Homo sapiens: one gene and its partners. The protein of the gene in region 1 purifies or fractionates together with the protein of each later gene. This does not show direct contact. Each region holds a gene or a part of one and is shown in the gene's direction. Other genes may lie near its edges.

Region 1 (8,789 bases):
TCTATAAAAATTTAAAAGTGAATCAAAGAACAATATCAAAAAGTGAAGAAAACCCACAAAATGGGAGAAATTATTTGCAAATCATACACCCAATAAGGGTTTAATATTCAGAATATATAAAGATCTCCCACAATTCAACAGAAAAAAAAACTCAATTAAAAAATGGGCAAAGGACTTAATAGACAGTTCCCAAAGAAGACATATAATGGCCAATAAGCACATTAAAAGATGCTCAACATCATTAGTCATTAAAGAAATACAAAATAAAACCACAGTAAGATACCACTTCCCACCACCTACTAGGATAGCTATAATTTTTAAAAAAGGAAATTAAGTTTTGGTGAGCATATGGAGAACTGGAACACTTGTACACTGCTCCCATGGAAAAACAGTTTTAGCAGTTCCTTAAAAAGCTAAACTAAAAGCTTACCATGTGATCTAGTAAGTCCACACGTAGGTATATTCCCAAAAGAATTGAAAATAGGAACTCAAACAGATTCTTGTACACCAATGTTAATAACAGCATTATTCACAATAGCCAAAAGGTGGAAACAACCTAAGTGTCCATCAACATATGAATAAATAAATATGGCATATATATAATATAAACAAATGGAATATTATTCAGCCATAAAAAGAAATCGAGTTCTGATACATGCCACAACATGGGTGAACCTTGAAAACATTATCCTCACAAAAGACTCTGAATAGCCAAAGCAATGTTGAGCTAAAAGAACAAAGCTAGGGGCATCACACTACCTGACTTCAAAATATACTAAACTCTAGTAATTAAAACAGCACGGTACTGGCATAAAGAGACACACAGATAATAGAACAGAACAGAGACCCAAGAAATAAAACCACATATTTATAGCCAACTGATTTTTGACAAAAGAGCCAAGAACCCACAATGGGGAAAGGTCAGGCTCTTCAATAAACGGTGTTGGGAAAACTGATAACCATATGCAAAAGAATGAAAGTAGTCAATTATCTCTCACCACATACAGCATCAACTCAAAATGGACTAAAGACTTAAATGTAAGACCCCAAACCATGAAACCACTTGAAGAAAACACAGGAAAAAAGCTCCCTAACATTGGTCAGGGCTAGAGGTTCCCAACCCCAGGGCCACAGATTAGTACCAGTCCATGGCCTGTTAGGAACCAGGCCACAAAGCAGTAGGTGAGCAGCAGGCAAGCAAGCGAAGCTTCATTTTTCTTTACAGCTGCTCCCCATTCCTCACGTTACCACCTGAGCTCCACCTCCTGACACATCAACGGTGGCATTAGATTCTCATAGCAGCGCAAAACCTACTGTGAATTGCGCATGCAAGGGATCTAGGTTGTATGCTCCTTAGAAGAACCTAATGCCTTATGAACTGTCACTGTCTCCCATCACTCCCAGATAGGACCCTCAAGTTTCAGGAAAACAAGCTCAGGGCTCCCAGTGATTCTACATTATGGTGAATTGTATAATTATTTCACTATATATTACAATGTAATAATAATAGAAACAAAGTGCACAATAAATGTAATGCGCTTGAAATATCCTGAAACCATCCCCTCCCTCCTGTGGATGGAAAAATTGTCTTCGATGAAACCAGTCCTTGGTACCAAAAAGGTTGGGGACTGCTGATCTGGGCAATGATTTTTTGGATATGACTTCAAAAGCAAAGGTAACAAAAGCAAAAATAGACAAAGGGATTACATCAAAATAAAATGCTTCTCTGCACAGCAAATTCAACAGACTGAAGACAGAATCTACAGAATCGGATAAAATATTTGCAAACTATACATCTAATAAGAGGTTAATTTCCAAAATGTTTAAGGATGTCAAACAACTCAATAGCAAAAAAATAAAAAAATTAAAAAACCATATTTAAAAAATGAGCAAAAGACCTGAATAGACATTTCTCAAAAGGAGATATACAAATAACCAACAAGTATATGAAACATTGCTCATCAATAACCATCAGGGAAATGTAAATCAAAATCACAATGAGATATCACCTCACACCTGTTAGAATGGCTATTACCAAAAAGACAAAAGATAAGTGTTGGCGAGGATGTGGAGAAAAGGGAACTCCTTCCTCGCTGTTGGTGGGAATGTAAATTATTACTAACATTATGGAAATAACTCAAAATATTAAATGTAGAACTACAAGCGGGTCCAGCAAATCCACTACAGGGTATATATTCAAGGGAAATGAAATCAGTATGTCAAAGAGCTATCTGCACTTCCATGTTTCCTGCAGCACTATTCAACAATAGCCAGAATATGGAATCAAGCTAACTGTCCATCAACAGATGAGTGGATAAAGAAAATGTGATATACATATACAATGGAATAGTATTAAGCCATAATAAAGAATGAAATCCTGTCATTTGCAGCAACATGAATGGAACTGGAAGACATTCTGTTAAGTGAAATAAACCAGGCAGGGAAAGACAAATATCGCATGTTCTCACTTATATGTGGGAGCTAAAAAATTTGATGTCATTGAGGTAGTAAGTAGAATGGTGATTACCAGAGGCTGGGATGGATGGGTGGTGGGAATGAAGAGAGGCTGTTAATGAGTACAAAAATACAGTTAGATAGAAGGAATATCATAGGGTTTGAGAGCTATATAGAGACAAAAAAATAGGTAAGTGATTGCTAGGAAAGCGGGTGGGATTGAGTACTAATGGTTATGGAGATTCTCTTTTGGGTAATGAAAAAGTCCTAAAGGTAATTGTGATAAAGGTTGTACAACTCTGAAGACAAACTAAAAACCATTGTATTGCACACTTTAAATGAGTGAATCATATGATATATTAATTATATCTCAATAAAGCTGTTTAAAAAAGAATTCTGAGTGGAATTGGCCAGATACAAAAAAGACTAAGATGGCAAATTTTATGATATCTTACTCCAATTTTTTAGAAACATAATTCAGATCACGTTTCCCTAACAACTCTCCAACAGCTTCCCATCTCCCTCAGAATGAAAGCCCCAATTTTCAATATAGCCCATAAAGTCCTACACATTCTGGCCCCTTTCCCTTTCTGGCCTGACCTCTGACCTCCTCTCCGCTCTGCTCCAGCTCACTAGGCCTCTTAAGTTGCTCTCTGAACATAAAGAGGCAGGTTCCCCCAGGGCCTTTGTACTTTCTTCTCCTCCAGAGAACGTCAAGGTAAGTTCTCTCACTTCCTTGAGCTCTGGACTCAAAAATTCCCTTCTCAGCGAGGACGTCCCTGACCACTTATTGTAAAACTGCAGCTCCCTACAGCCCCCCACCCACAACACACACACACACTCTTCATCCCCCTTTCCTTTTTAATCTCTATTTTCACCTTCTGTCATCCTATAATTTTACTTTTTGCCTGTCTCTTTCCACTAAAATGTAAGCTCCAAAAGGAGAGAGATGTTTGTCTGTTTTGTTCATTGTTGGTATCTCTAGTGCCTAGAGCAGTCCTTAATAAACATTTGTTGGATTAATAAAGGGAGACCACTGTGGGGGAAAAAAAATAAAAGAAAATAAAATTTTAGCTGAAGAATGCAAGCCCCTTTAAATTATCAGGCCCAGAGAGGCATTAGAATGAAAAAACAGTCCCGTCTCACTCCCGGTCTGAGCTGGATAATTATCTCTTAAAGCCCACCTGCTATATGGGCTCTAGACTGGAACCAAGAAGCCATAAAATGCCATATGCTGGACACGATAACTCATACCCTATGAGTTACAGTGTACAGCCAATCACTAAGCAATGGTATCTCTGTAAACCAATAACAATTCCTGACCAACTTTGTCTCAGCCCACTCTTCCCCTTCGCCTTTAAAAACCTGCTTGTAACCAAGGCTGAAGGAGCACTCCCCAAGGCAACTGGGAAATGAGTCCTGGGCAGCTGTCCTCATTTTGGCTGAAGTAAACACTTTAAATTATAATTTTGTGCCCCAGCCTCTTCCTTTTAGGTAGACACCACTATTCAATGACATCAAGATCTGAACTGTCCTACTTATCCCAATATCCCACCCCTAAAAAGAAATGTACCGAACCATAAAAAGCCTGAAGTACTCCGACTTACAGACTCCTGTATTAGCATCCTAAGAATTATATTACCCTCTTCAATAGGGAGTAGTATTTTTCATATCAAACCTAGCCTGAGAACAACTGAGATTCAACTAGGAAAAAAAGAAAAGAAAATCCATTAAAGACTGAGTGATTTGAACTCAAAAATATCCATCATCACTTGCTAAATCATAGACAGCAGGTTATTTCCCTCGACTTTGCTGTGCAGACCTGTAGTGGCTCAATTTCTGCCATAATAAAGGCCGTACTAGAAAGAGCAATCCTAACTAAGCGCGCAAGGTAAACATCAAGCTGGGGCCGTCAGGGGCGGGGAAACACTTTCTGAATGGCGGAAGCTCCGAGAGACGCCTTTCCCAGCTGCTCCAGAGGGGAAAGGAAAAGGGAGAAAGTCTGTTTTTCCAGAATCTCCCAAACACAGCCCAGGGGCCTGCTCCGCGGGCCTAAGCGCCTCCACGTGTCTCAGAAGCCTAGCACTATAGATACCCCGGGGCACGGAGCTGGGAAAACGGGAATAGGAAGACACTTTACCCCGAGAAGATCCAGTCCAACAGGTCTTCTTCAGCCGGATGACTGTGGAGCGCCACCACAAGCAGGGCCTGCAACCCAGGCATCCAGGCTAGACACCAAATCAGCAAACTTTATTCCCGCGCTGCCGAGTACAAGCCGGCGCCTCCCCGGCGCACACAGTACACATCAGCTCCGGGAGACCTACCCGACCCGCCCCTCCAGCGCCGTCCCCGCCCCCGTTCCTGCCCCACCCCTTTCCCCGCCCCCGGCCCGGCTCGCCTTTCTCGCGGCGCTGCAACCCTCCCACCACAGCCCATCCAGCCCCGCCCAGCGCGCCGCGGTGCGCATGCGTGGAGGCCCTCGCTGCCGCTGAGCACCTCGGGAAGTGTAGTCTCTTCGCAGGTGCGGCTGGGCAGCTAGAGTCCTGCATCCCGGTGGAATCCGGAGAAGTGAGAACATTCCCGCCGCCCGGTCCTCATTCCCATCTTCCCACCTGTCCAGTCCCCTCGCACTCCCGCTGCACCCCACGCGCCGGGCTTCAGTCAGAGAGTGCACTGAGGAAGAGCGGAGACCCCCTCTTCCCCTCAGCAGGCTGTGCCGGGGGAGGCGGGGTCCACCGCCCGCCCCCCGCCGTCGCTCTCCCCGCCTCCCCTTCCCTCCCCTCCTGGCGGGTGCGGGGCCGGTGTCCGAAGTCAGGCGGCGGCCCCCGCAGCGGCCGCAGGAGGGGCGGCTGCGGTGGGCGCCGCGGGCGATGCCCCTGCCCGGCTGCTCCGGCGGGGGGCAGTGCGAGCGGCGGCGGCGGGGGAGGAGGCGGGGGGCGGCGGCTGCGGCGGCTGCAGCAGAGGGGCCGAGAGCTGGCGGTGGCGGCGGCGGTGGTCGTGAAGGGCATCGGCGGCGGCGGTGATGGCAGAGATGATGTGAGTGCCCGCCGGCTGGAGACCTGGGGCCGCGGAGCGCGGGACGGGCGGCGGCGGCGTGCGGGAGCGGCCCCGGGGGCGGCGGAGGGATGCGGGGAGCGCGGGCAGAGCCGGAGCGGCGGCCGCCAACCGGCCGGCAGTGGCTGGAGCCCCGCGCTGCGGCGCCGGGGGAGCCGGGCCCGGCGTGGGGGTCGCGGGCGGCGGCGGGGCGGTCAGGCCGAGGGGCGTCTGCGATTGTTCTCAACACCCCTCCCCCACCCCATCCCGTGTGTCTGTTTGTTACTTGCAGCTGAAGATGGAAAGAGCCAGGCGAAGGGGAGGCGGCGGCGGCCGCGGCCGCGGAGGCAAGAATGTAGGGGGCTCTGGCCTAAGCAAGAGTAGACTCTATCCCCAGGCCCAGCACTCCCACTACCCCCACTACGCGGCCTCAGCCACCCCTAATCAGGCCGGGGGCGCAGCCGAAATCCAGGAGCTGGCCTCCAAACGAGTGGACATCCAGAAAAAGAGGTTTTACCTAGACGTGAAGCAAAGCTCCCGGGGCCGCTTCCTAAAGATAGCCGAAGTCTGGATAGGGAGAGGCCGGCAGGACAACATCAGAAAGAGTAAACTGACCCTCTCCCTGTCTGTGGCAGCGGAGCTGAAGGACTGTCTAGGGGACTTCATCGAGCACTATGCCCACCTGGGCCTGAAAGGCCACCGGCAAGAGCATGGCCACAGCAAAGAGCAAGGCTCCAGAAGGAGGCAGAAGCACTCGGCACCCTCCCCACCAGTCTCGGTGGGGTCCGAAGAGCATCCTCACAGTGTCCTGAAAACAGACTATATCGAGAGGGACAATAGGAAATATTACCTAGACCTAAAGGAAAATCAGCGGGGTCGCTTCCTACGGATTAGACAAACCATGATGCGGGGGACTGGCATGATAGGTTATTTTGGCCACAGTTTGGGCCAAGAACAGACTATTGTCCTCCCAGCACAAGGAATGATTGAGTTTCGTGATGCCTTGGTTCAGCTGATTGAAGACTATGGCGAAGGAGACATAGAAGAACGAAGAGGTGGAGACGATGACCCGCTTGAACTCCCAGAGGGGACTTCTTTCAGAGTGGACAATAAAAGGTTCTACTTTGATGTGGGCTCTAATAAATATGGAATTTTCCTGAAGGTAAGTGAGGTGAGACCACCTTACCGTAATACTATTACTGTTCCATTCAAAGCTTGGACAAGGTTTGGGGAGAATTTTATCAAGTATGAAGAAGAGATGAGGAAAATTTGCAACAGCCATAAAGAAAAGAGAATGGATGGCAGAAAGGCCAGTGGTGAAGAACAAGAATGCCTCGACTAGAGTGAAATTGAACTCCATCAGGCAAAATTTAAAATCACAAATTGGCTAAAAGTACTGATCCATTATCCTTTGAAGAAGTTTTTCCTCTTTTTTGGCCCGTTGTTATTAGTAATACCTCTAGTAGTTGATACTTCAGGAAGTCTGATTCTCATGTTATGTTACACATAGATCACTATAATTCTTACGGGAATTCCAACCTTCCCAGAGCTAAATAGTTTAGCTGCTTCAACTGCTCCAGACTATTGAAGTATGCAAATCAGCACAAAATGTGACATTCTGACATTCTAAATACCATAACTAAGATTTACATTGCACTATGACATAATCCCGAAAAAAGATACATATACTTAAATAGAAGTGTGACTTTCCCCCAAAAGTATTTCAATTCTACTTCATTAAAAGCTGCTAAGCTTACCTGTAGGGCAGTTACCACAGAAACAGAAATTGACCTCCGGTATATATAAATATTTACTTATAAAAGTACAAGTAGACGTATATTGTCCGTTGAATAACTGAATATACCATCAAAGGATCAAATCTTATTACCTAATTAAACCTTAAAAATATAATGTCATAATATTTCTTAAGAATACTATAGTATTCTATAATTTCAAACTTTGTGGTAACCCTACATTTTATAGTTGCCATATCAAAGCCATGGGAGAGTTTTAATTCGTTATTCTAAGTTTAGTTACAATCCCTTCTTTACCTCTACTTAATGTTCCATATATTTTTATTGACTTTCCAAAGTTTCAGGAATTACTTTTATGTCACATTGAGTGGGAGGCTTCATCCAATGGCTTTGCTATGGAAATCTTGGTGGTGTAGCTTTTCATGCTAATTTAAAGATTGCAAGAGGTTTCTTCCCCAAAATATATCATGGACTCAAGGTGTTATACTTTATGCTTCTTCTTTAACACTCTTTCAGAAGGGTTGGTGTACCAATTAACTGATATAAAAATATACCTGTAATAATATATTTTAGTAGCACTTTTGCAATTGCTACCCTTAAAACCATGTCAACACTTCCAATATAATCCTGAATTTTACAGGTGTTTTAATTCTGGAGGGGGTGGGGATTTTTTTTTTCTAAAAATAATTTAGAATACAAATTTCCAGTCTGAGAAAAATATTATTTGAAGATTGGTTATAAATATATTTGAAAGGAAAATTCAGGCATTTTCCAAGGTGCTCTTTCTGACTTTACACAAGACTCACCCATTTACCTGTATTAAAAATTACTTTCCAGGAAGTGCCACAGCAATTTTTCAACACCTAAGCAATTTTTTAAACAAGTGGATATAGTGTTATATGTGTACCAACCCATCCTGTATTAATTGACTGAAATTACATCTATTCAGCTATATTTTCTTCTGAATGAAATTATTGTCTTTTATCTTGGCTTTATTCACCTCCCACACAATAAGTCCATCTAATCATATTTAAGAGCCAGAACACTGATTTCAACCCCCAAATATCACTCTCATTGATGAGAGCTGGCTGCATGGATTCAAATCAGAATGTAGCTCTTCTTTTATATGCTAAAAGTAATTTAAAATTATATCAGCGATTTTTTTCTTCCAGAGTTTTGTCCCCCAATACCTTTACGTGAGGTCACTAAGAAAACTTGATGGTATGAATTAAAAAAATTAATTTCATTGGTTTATGTTACTTAAGAACAAGCAATCAGTAACCCCGACATATATACTAGTGTTGGTTTGCAGATTGTATTTCACATTTCCTCTAGTAGCGTGAAGGAATCTCATTAGTTCATTATAATTGTGGACCATCTGGATCACTATGGAACAACTGAAGGTTAGGAGATAATGTTAGTACTAGAGCTAATAGCACATGGTGGGTGTTGAGACTCTAAAAGTAGCAAGGATTTTTAAACAGTCCTAACTGTAAAATAACTATGTAGGCTTGCTAAAAAAGTAGTTTTTGGTCTATGAAGGAATGA
Region 2 (8,678 bases), on another chromosome or scaffold:
AAGTAACAGGAAATAATGCAAAGTTAATGTGAAGGAAATGGAACAAAACTTGAAAAAGAAGAAAGGTATGCCATGTTGTTTTGATAGAATCTTACCACTATAGCAATGTCAAAATAAAGCCTTATGTGTTTTAAGACCACTGTTACTAACAACTTTTGTTATTAACAGATGAAATTGATGAGGGAAAGTCTTCTTTCATTTTCTTTTCATAACTTCATTCTCCACCCAGCCTGTAATATTACCTGGTCTTGTCTCGTGAGTTTCAGTAAATATGGGGATATGTACGCTTCGCACTGGCCAAAGCCAGGTCACAAGTTAAGTGAGGCCTTATCTTTGGTGGTCCAAGTCAAGCCCACCTTTGGGTTGCCTGGCCATGGCAAGAGAGAGCTCCCCAGATTTGCCGTGTGCTGGTTCTCATGACCTGCCACAGGAACCTTGAGTCCTCCTTTATCACACTCACACACACACACACACACACACACACTCAGGAACGCTCATTTCCATTTCCACAGTACGCCATCTGGACTCTCCTAGATTTTATTAACCTTGTTGATAAAATAATTCCTACACAGTAAAGGTTTCCTTCTCACTAGGATCATAGTTAAAATGGCAATTTCTATTATTTTCAACATGGCACCAGTGTATTCTTGGGCTATATACTTTTTGACATCATTTTTAAAAAAATGCCACTGCTAATTATTATTATTATTATTATTATTATTATTTTTTGTAGAGACGGAGTCTCGCTTTGTTGCCCAGGCTGGAGTGCAGTGGTGTGATCTCAGCTCACTGCAACCTCTGCCTCCTGGGTTCAAGCATTTCTCCTGCCTCAGCCTCCTGAGTAGCTGGGACTACAGGTGCACGCTGCCATGCCCAGCTAATTTCTTTTGTATTTTAGTAGAGAAGGGGTTTCACCATGTTGCCCACGCTGGTCTCAAATTCCTGAGCTCAGGCAATCCACCTGCCTTGGCCTCCCAAAGTGCTAGGATTACAGGCGTGAGCCACTGCGCCTGGCTGCCACTGCTAATTATTATTGTCAAAGGAATCTGTATATAATCAATAAGTGAGTCAGGTAATTTTTGTGTGTGTGAGAAAGGGGGAGCAGCTGCTGTTGCTACTAAAACCTTATTCATAACACTTACGTTGTGGGGTGGGTGTGGGGCAGGCAGTCAAGTGCAGCAGAAGGAATTTTCCATTCCACACTGACCACACCTCCGTGAAGGCTGTTTCCTAATTATTCCTAGAAGCAGCTAGGATCTGTCTTAGCAGAAGACATTAAGTCTGATTTTTAGTTGTCTCTCCTTTTATCTTCTTTCTTCAGAGCCTAGCACAAGCTAGAAACTCAATAAATGCCAAAGAAGCAAATGGAGTGTTCCTTTTACCAGCCTATATCCTGAAACCCAGAGAGCAGGGAAAAACTGTTTAAAAACTGTCTAGAATGAAAATGCCACCAAGTAGGAGCAGTCCATTGGCACAATACAGGAGGCTGTAGCTTTGGGGCAATCATTTTTTAAGGTCTCTATCTTTCAGCATGCACAGGTTCCACAGCTGTTTGTATTGTTAAATACTTTCTCCACTCCACTTTTTTCCTCCTTAAAGAAATCAAAACATTTTTGGTGGGGAGGTCTAAAAATTATTGTGAGCCCTAGGCACTGAGTCTCCTGTACCTTACTAACAAGTCAGTTCTGGCTGGTGCCTGGGGGAACTGGTTGGTAATGTTTTGATCATCACCCCAGGTAAGTATTACACTGTACATCAGAAGTAGAAAACTGAAATGCCTACAAGCAGGCTGGGTATGGGGAATTTGTCCACCGTGTATGATGAGTTGGTGGCTAAACTGGTGTTCATAGCCCCCTTCCCTAGAAGTCGCTGCAGGCCACCTCACCTGGATTGTCCCCCAGTGTTGCCAGACTTCCCCATTTTTCAAGAAAGGCTAGAAACCCTGAGTTTTATGTAAAATCTCTCTGTTTTAAAATGCTAGCTCAAATTTCAAAGAAAAAATCTCCCTGAATGAACCAAACAAAACATCTCAGTATTGTATATGGCACTACTTTGTAATTTCTCTTGAACGTATCTGCTGCAGGGAGAAGCCTTAAAAACAAATGGCAGGTGTGGGCACCAGAAAATCAACACATCGGGAAGAGAAAAATGGCATGGTTTTACTGTAATTGTAAAAAGGTAATACTAGTTGCAGTAAATTGCATGATTCTTACTGTTTATGTGTAGTCCCTTAGCACTAATCTAATTATTCAGATTCCATAAAATTCCATTTGGATTATTTTCATGCTATTTCACTTTCCTGAATTTGTAATTTGAGTAATAGGGCCAGAATTTCATGACGTAATAGGGCCAGAATTTCACGTATCAAGAATTCTTACTCATAATTGTGATGTTCAATTTTTTTTTTTTTTTCCTGAGATAGGGTCACTCTGTTGCCCAGACTGGAGTGCAATGGCAAGATTCCCAGTGCTCTGGTGGTCCTCCCACTTCAGCCTCCTATCTGGGACTACAGATGCATGCCACCACATCTGGCTGATTTTTAAATATTTTTTTGTAGAAATAAGGTTTTGCCATGTTGCCCAGGCTGGTCTCGAACTCATGGGTTCAAGCCATCTGCCTGCCTTGATCTGCCCGCCTTGGCCTCCCAAAGTGCTAGGAGTACAAGCCTGAGCCACTGTGCCTGGCAATGATTTTGAATTTTTAAAAGCGTACTTAACCCTTAATAAAGGCCCGTATTATTTCTAGTCACATCATATTTGTCTGACTTGCTTTGGGGCTTACAATATAAAAAAGAAGAGAGGAAAGAAGTCTGCATTCTTTTGTTTTTGACTCTTCAGGAGTATTTAGTAAAAATTATTTTTAAAATAAGTAGGACTTTGGGGATTTGACTGAAAAGCTACACATATTCACTTTCTAGTGACAAAATCAGCCTGTGGCATTGTCAGAACACCACAAGGCATACCCAGTCCCACTTCTCCTCTTCATCTCAGCTGATGATTTCACTTTCTAATCCTATAAACAGTTAAGATCTAGGCTGGGCGCGGTGGCTCACGCCTGTAATCCCAGCACTTTGGGAGGCCGAGGTGGGTGGATCACGAGGTCAGGAGATGGAGACCATCCTGATTAACATGGTGAAACCCCGTCTCTACTGAAAATACAAAAAATTACCCGAGCGTGGTGGCGGGCGCCTATAGTCCCAGCTACTCGGGAGGCTGTGGCAGGAGAATGGCATGAACCCAGGAGGCGGAGCTTGCAGTGAGCCGAGATCACGCCACTGCACTCCAGCCTAGGCGACAGAGCGAGACGTCTCAAAACAAACAAAACAAAACAAAACCCTGTTAAGATCTAGTGTGCTGAGCTCTTCAAAGTGGTAAAGTATAGGTTCCTTGGAAACAGAAGGGTCTCTGATTTAGGATTGGTGGGGAGGGAGGACTGTAAGCCTTCCTGGAGGAAGGGACATCTTCACCCAGAGTAGAATTGGATTAGACTTCAATGAGAGGGCAGGGCAAGGTTGAGGGAAGAGGCCCAGAACTGAAAAAGTATGACAGAATCCAGCAGTAGAAGTAAATTGAATTGGGTTGGAGGGTGCAAGTCATTCTAATTTCATGTGTAGCACTTGTCACTTTCAGATCATTTCTTGTTTACTGTCTGTTCTTCTACCCTCATACCCTCACAGAGAATAGGAGGCCTGGCCTGCTGATTCCTTAGTGGCTGGCATATATGTCTGTTAATCTTTCTTGAGAGCCAGCCTTGTGTCAGATCCTGTTCTAAGTGCTTCCCTCGCTCCCCACCCCCGCCATTCAACAAAATTCTACTTCTTCAGAGCTGGTTCAAATGCTTTCTTCTCTATGACCACCCCCCCCCCTGCCCCGCCCCGTCTCTTTTCCTCACTCCTACTCTCAGAATTAATTACTTCTTTCAGAGGTCCCTCAGCTATTGATCCTTCCTTGCAGCATCAATTTAATTATGCATAGTGTCAGTTTGCGGTTTCCTTGTCTCCTCCATTTCTCATTAAGTTTTAAATCATATGAAGACAGTGCATGTTTGTCTGTCTCTGTAAGCCCTACAACACTTTGGGCAGGCTTTTACACACAAAACGGGGCTCAAAAATATTTTGAATAAATGATTTAGGGAGAGGTCCACAAACGCCCTCCACTCCCACCCTAGTCCTCAGAGCAATACTTTAAAATAAAAATCTGACCATTTCAACCTTGTTAAAGGCCGATCTTCATTCTGAGAACAGAATTCTAACTCCTAAGCACGATGGTGACCTCAGGGCGCTGTGTGAACCTGCACCCGCACCCCTGTCCAACCACGTCCCTCCCCACACCTGGTCTAATAAAACGACTGCTTTAGGTGACCTGCACGATCGGCTGTACTGATTCATGCCACAGGCTTTTACCTCAATTACTCCCTCTGTCTGGAATGTCCTTTCTTTCCTTGCCTGGCCTGATTCGGGCATGGCCTTCTCAAGCAAGCTTTCCGTCTTTGAATCTAGGCCCTGATTAAGAACTTTTTAAAAAAGTACTAAGTTCAGAAAAGTTTAATATGGTGTTCCCCCATTTATGTGATTAAAAATGAAAACAATACTAAAGTGTAAAATGTAATCTTTAAAATGTCACACAACTTTACATGCATGCTAGATTTAGAATACCATCTGTATTTACGATTTTCTCTTATTGACTGTCTCCACGCGCACCCACTCTGCAGACGCCCTAAAGAGTGTCTATCGGATCACCCTCAAGTTGGGTCAAACGGCTCCTCTTCTCGGCTTTTCGGGAGCAACCCTATCTCAACATTCACCATCTTAAGATGAGCAGACTGCAAGTTTGCCTCTCCCACCAGTATGGGAGCTGCCGAAGCGGCAAGAACAGCGTTTCCGTCCATCGAGCGCCAGGTCACCAGTCAGCTCCAGTCCTATTTTGAGTTGAAGTAAAAGCTCCTCCCTAGATGGCCAGTGCACGTCTTTAAAAAGCGACTCCTTTCCCACAAAGGAAATACGACTGGTTCGCATCTATCAAGGGTTGGCGTTGGGATAAGAGGGTGAAGTATCAGCTGGCCCTGATTCTCTGAATTCCCGGACCCAATAACGCGACCAAGCACCGTGACTCCCAGGAAAACTAGCGGAGTGAGCGCGGCTGAGGAAATTACTGACACCGGAAGTCACGTGAGCGGCTGCCCCTAAGGTCGCTATCTCGACAGTCGACTATTCAGCCTTGCAGGCGCCTCTGGCGGGCTTCACTGAGATCCGCTCTTTCGGTGCTCGACTCGCCCGTGCTGCTGCCGCCGCCGAAGGAGGGGCAAAGCTCAAGATGGCGGACAAAACGCCAGGCGGATCTCAGAAGGCCAGTTCAAAGGTAATTTCTGACAAAATTTCGTAAGTCAGCGGATCTACCACTGTCGTTTGGGGCCCACAGACGCTTCTGGCCTGTGAGAGGCGATTGGGATTGGGGTCTGCATTCTAGTCGCGACGGTAGGCCCGGGCGCCGCCGCACCGTTGTGCGCAGGTTGAGAGGCCTGGTATCTCCCCATAGTCCCAGCCGGGATTCAGCTCGAGACTGGCGTGCCCAGTGGGTGGAGGCGTGAGTGCTTCGGCCCGCGCTTGGCATTGGAGTGAAATCAGGAATTCAGATTGAGGTCTGAAGCAGTGAAAACGCTCTCCTGTATCTCAGCTTCCTGCGCCCTGAGGCCGCCAGACAGCGCCTGGGAGAGAGGCGGGAATCGCTTCCCGGTGCTTAAATGTCTGCTGCTTTTTTCTCGGTTTTGGATCTCACTCACTTCCGGCCTCCCTCAGTTTCCCTCCAAGGAATGAATAACCTCTAGGGTCGCCAGCTGTGAGGGGAGGACCACTAGGGCAAAGACACGGAGTGGGAAATGCAGAGGCGGGAGCAGCTCTCCTTTGCAGTGCTGCATAGCCAAGGTTAATGTACAGTCTACACGTGGTCTTTACCTTAACGGGAAGTAAAAAGCACTTTTGAGGGTAGAGGACTCGTGGTCTCTTTCTTTATGTTGAAGAAACAGTGAAAAGAGAAGCTCCGTAGACTTGTAAGCTACATACGATTAGTAAATTGCATTTGTGTTTACAGGGAACCCTGGGCACGTATTGTGAAACCAGTGAGCTGTGGTAGTAGTTAAGCATTAGTACGGTTGGGTTCTTAGTTGCCATCTTGGGCGGGACATTTAATCGTTTTTTGGTTTGGGTTTCTGGTCTCGAATATATTAAAAGTAATTGGTACTGCCACGAGGTAGTTAAACTTTCCGATGCTGATGCAAGAAGCTGTGTAACACTTTCAGGTGCTAGGGACTGTTAAATCTTAAAGAGTGTGTGACTGTAAATCGGCTATTAGAAAGTTAAATTTACGGTAGGAGAGAAGCTTGCGTTTACAGTTCTGAGAAACATCATAACTCGTTTTCTACTTGCTTTCTCTAATCCGACTGTTTATGCCATTTGGTGAACGATGTACACCAAAATAATTAATTCATAATTAGTAATGGTCTTAACAGACATCGTTTAGTTACATAGAAACTTTGGTGAGGGGCCAGTTTCGGCTTCTTTACAAGGTATTGTGTCAGTTTTTTTTCCCCCTCCTCAGTACATTTTCTCGTCTCCCTCTCTTTGGGGGCGAGCTCTACCAACTCTTCTCAACAGACTCCTGACAAGAACATACCGTTAGGGAGCTATTACTAAAGCTAGCTACGTTCATAACAAGTCGTGCATAAGCCTCACAATTTTTGTTTCTTCTCAAAGTAATATTTTAAGTATTCCCTACTTGAGGTCTTGGATACATTGAAAACATTTCAATGTCTGTGTTCAGGCTTCCTTCTAAAATAGTGCTTCTCATGACTGAATGTATGGCTGTTCTCAATAAATAAATTATTGGATTATCCAGTAATCTTTTCTGTTTATATTGCCTTAGATTATAATCTCTTGATGCTATTAGCAGATTTCTTACTGATGTCTGTGAAAGGAATCAGAATATCTTAACTAATTTGGAGGCTGCATAATGTAGTGGGAAGATTATGAATTTTGTTAACAAGAGATTTGGGTTCAAATCCTGACTTGGTAATTAATTATATTTGCGATAATAAGGCAGATTGCTTAAACTCTGGAGCCTCAATTCCCTCATTTGTAATGTAGATATAATTCTTTTTTTACATGGTTGATATAAGGATCAAATGAGATAATGTCTATGAAGTACATAATAAATCTTAATTTCTTTCCCCTCTTTTTGTTTTTAGAGGAAATCAAAAGTTCTTAGCTTTCAAAATGTCAGGATAAATTTTAATCCTGTGATTTGGAATCTAAGTCATCAGCTGTCATAATGACTGCCCAGATAGCTGCTTTTTATTTATTTTATTTCTTTTTTTTTTTTTTTTTTTTTTTTGTGAAAGAGTTTCGCTCTGTCGCCCAGGCTGGAGTGCTGGAGTGCAGTGGCACAATCTCGGCTCATTGCAACCTCCGCCTCCCGGGTTCAAGTGATTCTCCTGCCTCAGCCTCCCTAGTAGCTGGGACTACAGGCGCCCGCCAGTACGCCCGGCTAATTTTTTGTATTTTAGTAGAGACGGGGTTTCACCATGTTGGCCAGGATGGTCTCGATCTCTTGACCTCGTGATCCACCCGCCTCAGCCTCCCAAAGTGATGGGATTACAGGCGTGAGCCACCGTGCCCCGCCCTGCTTCCCTGCTTTTTATTTCTAACACATAATTTATTAGAGAAATTGTAAGATCATTTTGGCTAATACTACAGTATTTAGAATTTCTAGCCTTTGATATCTGGTTTGATTTCCTTTCCTCTGGAAAGAACAGATGAGTGGCTTATATTTTACAATACAGATGGAGTGAACAGATACTTCTGTTTCATGATTCGTCGTTTTCTTTGGTAGTTACATTCCCGTTAATATGGATAGGGATGCTTATTATATTTCTAGACATTGGGAAAATGTTAATTTTAAATGTACAATATGGCAAAATTATTAACATTTCTTAATTATAAAAAGATTAAATTAGATAACCTCTACAGGTCTTCTAGTTGGGGTGTTTTTTTTTTTTTTTTTTTTTTTTTTTTGAGAGGGAGTCTTGCCTTGTCGCCCAGGCTGGAGTGCAGTGGTGCAATCTCAGCTCACTGCAACCTCTGCCTCCTGGGTTCAAGCAATTCTTCTGCCTCAGCCTCCCGAGTAGCTGGGACTACAGGCGCCTGGCCAATTTTTGTATTTTTAGTAGAGATGGGGTTTCATCTGTTGGCCTCTTGACCTTGTGACCCCCCCCCCCCGCCTCGGCCTCCCAAAGTGCGGGGATTATAGGCGTGAGCCACCGTGCCTGGCTTCTAGTTTTAAAATGATACTTTATGTATGTGTATGTACTTGAATGACTTACCTTTATTCATAATTGTCCCTAATGAAGAGACCCCTGTGCACTTTAATTTTCTGTGTAATTTTGTTGTGCTTTGCATTTTAGAGCCTGGCAGATGTAGACATTTAACAAATGTTCTAGAAATGAGCTAAAATTTTCCTGTGCATTTGTTTGTTTATCACTAGTCTAAAATATTGCTTGGTTGGGGAGGGGTGTTGATGTTATGTAGTAGCTTTCATTTTGAGAGGAGAGAGAGAGAGCCTGTAATTGTTTACTTATAAAATTGTTAAGCATATTTCCTTAGAATTTAATTTATAAAAAAATTACTG
Region 3 (7,937 bases), on another chromosome or scaffold:
GCAATTTTGAAGAAAGGAATACCTAGGAAGACCTAGTTTAATATACACATATTTGTGAGTTTCCCAAATTTTTTCTAGCTTTTGATTTCTAATTCCATTTTGGTTGGAGAACATAGTTCATATTATTTCTTTCTTTTTACATTTATTGAGGTTTATGGCTGGGCACAGTGGCTCACGCCTGTAATCCCTGCACTTTGGGAGGCCAAGGTGGACAGATCACCTGAGGTCAGGAATTCGAGACCAGCCTGACCAACATGGTGAAACACCATCTCTACTAAAAATACAAAAATTAGTCAGGGAGCATGGTGGCGGGTGCCTGTAGTCCCAGCTACTCGGGAGGCTGAGGCAGGAGAATCGCTTGAACCTGGGAGGCGGAGGTTGCTGTGAGCCAAGATTGTGCCACTGCACTCCAGCCTGGGCGACAGAGCAAGACTCTGTCTTAAAAAAAAAAAAATGTATTGAGGTTTCTTTTATCACCTAGTATGGTCTATATCCTGGAAAATGTTTCATGTGTACTTCAGAAGTATGTATAGTTCGTTGTTGGGTGGAGTGTTCTATAGACACCTATTAGGTCTAGTTGGTTAGAGTGTTGTTCAAGTCTTTTATTTCCTTGTTGATCCTCTGTCTAGTTGTTCTACCATTAAAAGTGAGGTACTGTAGTCTCCTACTATTATTATTGAATTGTCTAATTCTCCCTTCATTTCTGTCAGTTGTTGCTTTGTGTATTTTGGTGCCTTATTATTAGGTACATATGTGTTTTTAATTGTTATCATTTCCTGGCAGATTAACCCTTTTATCATTAAGAAATATCCCTATCTCTAGTAATATTTTTTGCTTTAAAGTCTGTTTTGTAAGCTATTAACATAGCCACTCCACCTTTCTTGTAGTTGCTGTTTGCAAGATCATCTTTTTCCATCCTTTTACTTTTCATTTATTGTGTCTTTGAATTTAAAGTGCCTCTCCTGCAGACAGAATATATTTGGATCCTGTTTGTTAATCAAGTCTGACAATCTCTGTCTTTTGATTGGACTGCTTTATTCTCTCACATTTATTTTTATTGTCTATATACTGAGAATTACATCTAACTCTATTCTACTTTTGGATGTCTGTATTTCTCAATGTCTATTTTTTCTTCTGTTCTTACTTTATGCTTTCATTTGCATTTAGTCATTAAGTGAATATTTTCTAATGTAGTATTTTTGTGATTGCTTTGGGGTTTATGAACAACTTCAGATTTATATTAGCTTAATTCCAGCAATATTGCTATGGTTTGAATGTTTACCCCCAAAGTTCATGTATTAGACATTTAATTTCCAATGCAACAGTGTTAGGAGATGGGGCCTAATAACAGGTAATTCGATCATGAGGGCAGAGCCCTTATTAATGGTTTAATGTCACTAGCATGGGAGTGGGTTAGTTATAGCAAGAATGAGTTATTAGGCCGGGCGCGGTGGCTCACGCCTGTAATCCCAGCACTTTGGGAGGCCGAGGCAGGCGGATCACAAGGTCAAGAGATCGAGACCATCCTGGCTAACATGGTGAAACCCTGTCTCTACTAAAAATACAAAAAAACAAAAACTTAGCCGGCGGCGGTCACCTGTAGTCCCGGCTACTCCAGAGGCTGAGGTGGAAGAATGGCATGAACCAGGGAGGCAGACCTTGCAGTAAGCTGAGACCACGCTACTGCACTCCAGCTGGGGCAACAGAGTGAGACTGTCTCAAAAAAAAAAAAAAAAGAATGAGTTATTATAAAATAAGTCTGGCAGCTGGTACCTCTCTCTGTATCGTGCCCACTTCTGCCTTCCATCTTCCACCATGAGATGACACTACGCAGATGCCAGCATCATGCTCTTGGACTTCCCAGCCTCCATTACCATGAGACAAATAAACTTCTGTTGTTTATAAATTACCTAGTCTGTGGCATTCTGTTATAGCAGAAAACAGACTAAGACAGATACATAGAAGTATTACTTTTATATAGCTCTATTCCTTTCCTCCTTTTTATAGTATTGTTATACATATTATATCTATTAATGTTATATACCCAACTATACTTGTTACAAGTATTACTTTACTGTCTGTAGTCATTTTCTCAGCACAGCACAATTACGCTCCCACCAATCTTCTTTGTGCTGTTATTGGCAAATATATTACATACATATTACCTTCTTGTAGGTGACATGCCCAACATTATATCATATACATATTATTTTATATAACTGCTTTTTAAATCATTTCAGAGAAAAGAAGAGACAATACTTTTGTACTGGTTTTCAAATAAATAAATGTCCAATATAAATGTGGATTTTTAAAAATAATTACTCAATTACCTTTACTAGTACTCTTTGTTTTTTCATGTAGATTTAAATTACCATCCAGGGATACTTGCCTCAACTTGAAGAACTGTTAGTATTTCTTGTGAGGCGGGTCTATTGACAACAAATTCTCTCAGTTTTGTTTGTCTGAGAAAGTTTTCATTTTACCTTCATTTTTGAAAGATAGCTTTTCTGGATTTTTGGTTAACTATTTTTTGTTGTTTTTTTTTTGTTTTTTGTTTTTTGTTTTTTTGAGATGGAGTCTCACTCTGTCACCCAGGCTGGAGTGCAGTGGCGCAATCTCGGCTCACTGCATCTTCTGTCTCCCATGTTCAAGTGATTCTCCTGCCTCAGCCTCCGAAGCAGCTGGGACTACAGGTGTGTGCCACCACACCCAGCTAATTTTTTGTATTTTTAGTAGAGACAGGGTTTCACTGTGTTAGCCAAGATGGTCTCGATCTCCTGACCTCGTGATCTGCCCGCCTTGGCCTCCCATAGTGCTGGAATTACAGGCATGAGCCACCACGCCCAGCCCTATTTTTTTCTTTGAGTATTTTAAATATATATGTCATTACCTTCTGCCCTCCATTGTTTCTGTGAAGAAATCAGTCATTAATTTTATTGGGGTTCCCCCCTGTAAGTGATAAGTTGTTTTTCTCTTACTCCTTTCATGATTTTCTCTTTGTCTTTTGACCTTCAACATTTTTATTGCAACATGTCTATTTTGTGCATCTCTGTGTTTATTTTCTAATAGTTGGAGGCCATTGAGCTTCCTGCATGTAGAGGTTATTGATTTTTAATGAATCAGAGAAGTTTTCTACCATTATTTCTTTGAATATTTTTTCTGCTCTTTTCTTTCTTTCCTTTCCTTCTGGTATTCTCATTATATGTATATGGTACCCTTGATGGTGTCCCACATTTTTCCAAGGCTCTGTTCACTTTTCTTCATTTATCGTTCTCTCTGTTTTCAGCTTGCATAATCAATGTCAGTCTGTCTTCAAGTTCATCAGTTCTTTCTCTTGCTAGTTCATGTTTATGGTTGAGCTTCTCTAGTGAATTTTTAATTTCAATTAGTATACTTTTCAACTCCAGAATTCCCATTTGGTTCTTTTTATATATATAATTTTTTATCTCTTTATTGATGTTCTCAATTTGATATGACATTGTCATCATACCTTCCTTTACTGCTTTAATTGTGCATTCCTTTATTTCTGTGAACATACTTATAATGACTATTTTGAACTCCTTTTCTGTTAAATCTGACATCTGTTCTCACTCATAGGCAGTTTGTGCTTTTTCTCTCCAGTGTATGGGTTATACTTAAGTGTTTCTTTGCATGCCTTGTGACTTTTTTGTTGTTAACTGAACATTTTGGATAACATACTGTAACAACTCTGGGTACTGATTCTCCCCTTTCAGGGGCTTCTTATTGTTATTTGCTGGTTTAATTTTTAGTGACTGGCTAGAATATTTTAGTGAAGTCTATTTCCCTCCTACGATTTTAAGCCTCTGTTGTTGCTCCTCTGGGAGGTACAGCTTTAGGTATGCCCATGGTTGATTGCTGAATTGTTTTCAACAATGCTCTGGAGAGTAAATTCCTTTACAAACTAATCCAACCAAAGTATGGCTTCTTTGAAGCAATAGTTTCTGAGATCCCAGTTTAATACTCATTCTAATCCCAAAAAGGAACTTCCTAGTGATCTTATTCCTTGGTTTGCTTCCTGCAAACTAGTTGGCCAACAGTCTAAACTACATCTTCATTTAATCCTGTAATCTCCCTTTCCCCACAACCTCACTATTCTTGAAAGCACCTTTAGGTTTGAACTTCTCCACACTCCATTGTAAATGGAGTCAGTCCTTTGGAAAAAGATTAGGAGCTATCTGTCTTACGGCCTACTTCCCTTTTGCCCTTGGCAGAATCTCTGAGCCCAAGCTGTGTTCCTGATAGAGCATATATAAATTTAAATTTTGTCAAAACATATATTAAATACATGAAAACTTCTCAACTGGATTTTTAAAATCCTATGCTAGGCTGGGTGCAGTGGCTCACACCTGTAATCCAAGCACTTTGGGATGCTGAGGTGCGCAGATCACTTGAGGTCATGAGTTCGAGACCAGCCTGGCCAACATGGTGAAATCCCATCTCTACTAAAAATACAAATATTAGCTGGGCGTGGTGGCAGGCGCCTGTAGTCCCAGCTACTCCAGAGGCTGAGGTAGGAGAATTGCTTGAACCCAGGAGGCAGAGGTTGCAGTGAGCTGAGATCATCCGGCCTGGGCGACAGAGCAAGACTCCATCTCTAAATAAATAAATAAATAAATAAATAAAACTCTAAATTAGACCTAACCAAATGAGAATCTAGGATTAAAGCCTAGACATGTGTATTTTGACACTTCTCCATGTGTTTATGATGTACATCTTTAGTTTAGAAATCTGTATCAGAGACATTCACTAAATATTAGTCCTGAGGTAGAAGTGCTTATAAATCTTTTGTGAAGATTTATCCATACTATCCCTAAACTGGCTGGCTCTTTTTATTTTGTAGTTTTAAAATTTTTTCACTGGAACAGATTCAGAATCCTGCCCCAAGACCAGCTCTTTTTACATATGCATTTTCCTTTGTTTCTTTAAAGTAGCCTATATTCATAAGTTTGGCAAACAAAGGATTATCATACATGTCTGGTTTTATGATGTCTACATTAATTTTTTTCTCTTGCAGGTGAAAATGAGTTCTTCAGTAAGAAGAAAAGGCAAGCCAGGCAAAGGAGGTGGAAAAGGGTCTTCTAGAGGAGGAAGAGGAGGCAGGAGTCACGCCAGTAAATCTCATGGGAGTGGTGGCGGTGGCGGTGGTGGTGGTGGTGGAGGTGGCGGCAACAGAAAGGCCTCCAGTAGAATATGGGATGATGGAGATGACTTTTGTATCTTCAGTGAATCAAGGCGCCCTTCCAGGTCATTATAACTCTTTGAATGTTTAAATATGGAAATGGTATCAACCCCTAATGTATGGGACAACAGATGGCTGAGAATGGAAAAAAAGTCGAGTAATTCTGGTCAAATTGTCTTCCTCTTTGTAACCCTTTTCTGAAGACATGATGGGAAATAACAGCTTTTGTGTGTATGTAGGTTGCATGACACTGTGAATTGAGTGTAATACTGCTATTATACCCAGTGTTACTAGGAAAGTAAATACAGAAATAGTGTGATGAAAATTATTTTAAGTATTCCTTATGCATCATAGACTGATGTTAAAATGATGATGTTAACATTGAACATGGACAGGTACGGTGGCTCACACCTGTAATCCCATCACTTTGGGAGGCCCAGGTGTGTGGATCGCTTGAGGTCAGGAGTTCGAGACCAGCCTGGCCAATAGGGTGAAATCCTGTCTCTACTAAAATACAAAAATTAGCCAGGCATGGTGGCAGTCACCTGTAATCCCAGGTACTAGGGAGGCTGAGGCAGGAGAATTGCTTGAACCCAGGAGGCAGAAGTTGCAGTGAGCTGAGATCACACCACTGCACTCCAGCCTGGGTGACAGAGTGAGACTCCATCTCAAAAAACAAACATTGAACAGCCTAAAGTGCAACATGACTGTACTGTGTCTTTCTAGTTGATGAGCTGTGTATTTTCCAGCCAAATCAGCCATCATCTGATGGTGTTACATGTGGTGACCAGTAACAGATGCCTTATCTAGGTTTCTCTCCTGTTCAACTTTTAACTAATGAATAAATTATGGGAATTCTAGTAATTCTAATGAGTATTTAATAAAAGTAAATGTTTTGCTATTGCATGTTATACAGTATAACTACAATTAGGCATCACTTAGTGACAGAGATGTGTTCTGAAAAATGCATTGTTAGGCAATTTCATTGTTGTGCAAACATCATAGAATGTACTTACACAACCCCAGATGGTACAACCTACAACACACCTAGGCTGTATGATGTAGCCAATTGCTCCTAGACTACAAATCTATACAGCATGTTGCTGTACTGAATACTCTAAGCAATTATAACACAATGGTAAGTATTTGTGTATCTAAACATGTCTAGTTGTAGAAAAGGTATAGTAAAAATAGAGTATAAGAGATTAAAAATGATACCTATGTAGGGCACTTACCGTGAATGGAAGTTGCAGGACTGGATTTTGCTCTGGGTGAGTCAGTGAGGAAGTGGTGAGTGAATGTGAAGGCCTAGGGATATTACTGTACACTACTATAGACTTTATAAATAGCAAGCAGCATAGTCTCTCTATGTTGCCCAGGCTGGTCTTGAACTCCTGGGCTCAAGCGATTCTCCTGCCTTGGCCTCCCATAGTGTTGGAATTACAGGCGTGAGCCACTGTGCCTAGCCAAGAACCTAACTTCTGAGTTAGCTGCAGCTCCATAGTTTTTCAAAACATGGACATTATAGGTTCTTGGAGTCCGTAGATGTTCATTCATTTGGTAAGTATTTACTGAATGCCTACCATGCACCAGGCACTGTTTTAGGGACTTGGAATTGCAGCAGGGAGTAAAATATTGTCCTTATCTAGATAGAATGGGATTTGAGATAGAAAAACCATAAACAAATGTATAACATTACCAGGTGCCGCATGCTATGGAGAGAAATAAAGGAGTGTAACAGGGATATAAAATACCAAAATAGAATTGTTAATTTATGTAGAAAGCCCCCCTAATAAGGTATCACGTGAAGAGAGGCAAGAAGTAAGTAAAGGAATAAGCTGTGAAGTTCTGAGTACAGCATTCAAGGCAGAGGGAAGAGCAATTTCTTAAGGCAAGAATGTGCTTGGAAGGTTTAGGAAATAGCAAAGAACCATGTGGCTAGAATGAGTGGGCAAGAAGGCAAGTGGTAGGCAATTAGATCAGAAAGACCAGACTGTATAGGACTTCATGGGCCATTATTAGGACTTTGGCTTTTACATGAAGTAAGACAGAAGGCCTTTGGAGGGTTTGAGGCAAGGGTGTGTGATATTATCAGTCAGTCTGGCCAGAGTTGTTTCTATTCAGTGTATGCCTTTATGTGAATTAGAAAATGGTGCTCCTTCCTTTGGACAGTTATAGCCCCACACCAGGATCATGGCTTAGCCAGCAGAACATGGACCGGATTTTGCTGTCCCTTCCTCCCTCTTCTTCCCTCCCAGCCAGGAACCTTTGTGCAGTGTACAGTCTATGAATCTATACTCAATAGCATTGACTGGGTGTGCTTTGTAGAGAATAAACTATAAAGGGGCATGAGTTGAAAGCAAGGAGACCAGTTAGGAGATGTTCTCCAAGTGTAGATATAAAATAGATAATTTAATATATAAATCTGAGGTTCAAGAAAAAGATCTAGGCTGGAGATGTAAATGTGTGAGTCTTCTATAGATAAATGCTAAAGTTCTGAGTCTGGATAAAATCGAATAGAGAAGGTATCTGATGTTTGAGCCCTGGGACACTCTAGGTTTTAAAGCTAAGAGAATTTGGAATGTTCCCAACACAAAGAAATGATAAATGTGTGAGGTGTTAGATATCCTAATTACCCTGATTTGATCACTACACATTGTATGCATGTATCAAAATAGCACATGTACCCCTGTATTAGTCCATTCTCACGCTGCTATAAGGACATACCCAAGACTGA

The links.
Region 2: the proteins of PURG (region 1) and U2SURP purify together in Homo sapiens (co-immunoprecipitation; 2 studies listed by BioGRID and IntAct, with this or other methods). This does not show direct contact.
Region 3: the proteins of PURG (region 1) and DHX57 purify together in Homo sapiens (co-immunoprecipitation; 2 studies listed by BioGRID and IntAct, with this or other methods). This does not show direct contact.

What each region holds. Positions count from the first base shown.
Region 1 is NC_000008.11:31,029,779-31,038,567, reverse strand, and holds PURG (purine-rich element-binding protein gamma), read left to right. Parts: upstream 1-5,211; 5' UTR 5,212-5,490; exon of another isoform or gene 5,491-5,779; 5' UTR 5,780-5,785; coding exon 5,786-6,829; 3' UTR 6,830-7,718; downstream 7,719-8,789.
Region 2 is NC_000003.12:142,996,317-143,004,994, forward strand, and holds the start of U2SURP (U2 snRNP-associated SURP motif-containing protein), read left to right. Parts: upstream 1-5,253; 5' UTR 5,254-5,312; coding exon 5,313-5,357; intron 5,358-8,678.
Region 3 is NC_000002.12:38,865,510-38,873,446, reverse strand, and holds part of DHX57 (putative ATP-dependent RNA helicase DHX57), read left to right. Parts: intron 1-5,035; 5' UTR 5,036-5,041; coding exon 5,042-5,265; intron 5,266-6,214; exon of another isoform or gene 6,215-6,338; intron 6,339-7,937. UniProt on the Homo sapiens protein: Probable ATP-binding RNA helicase.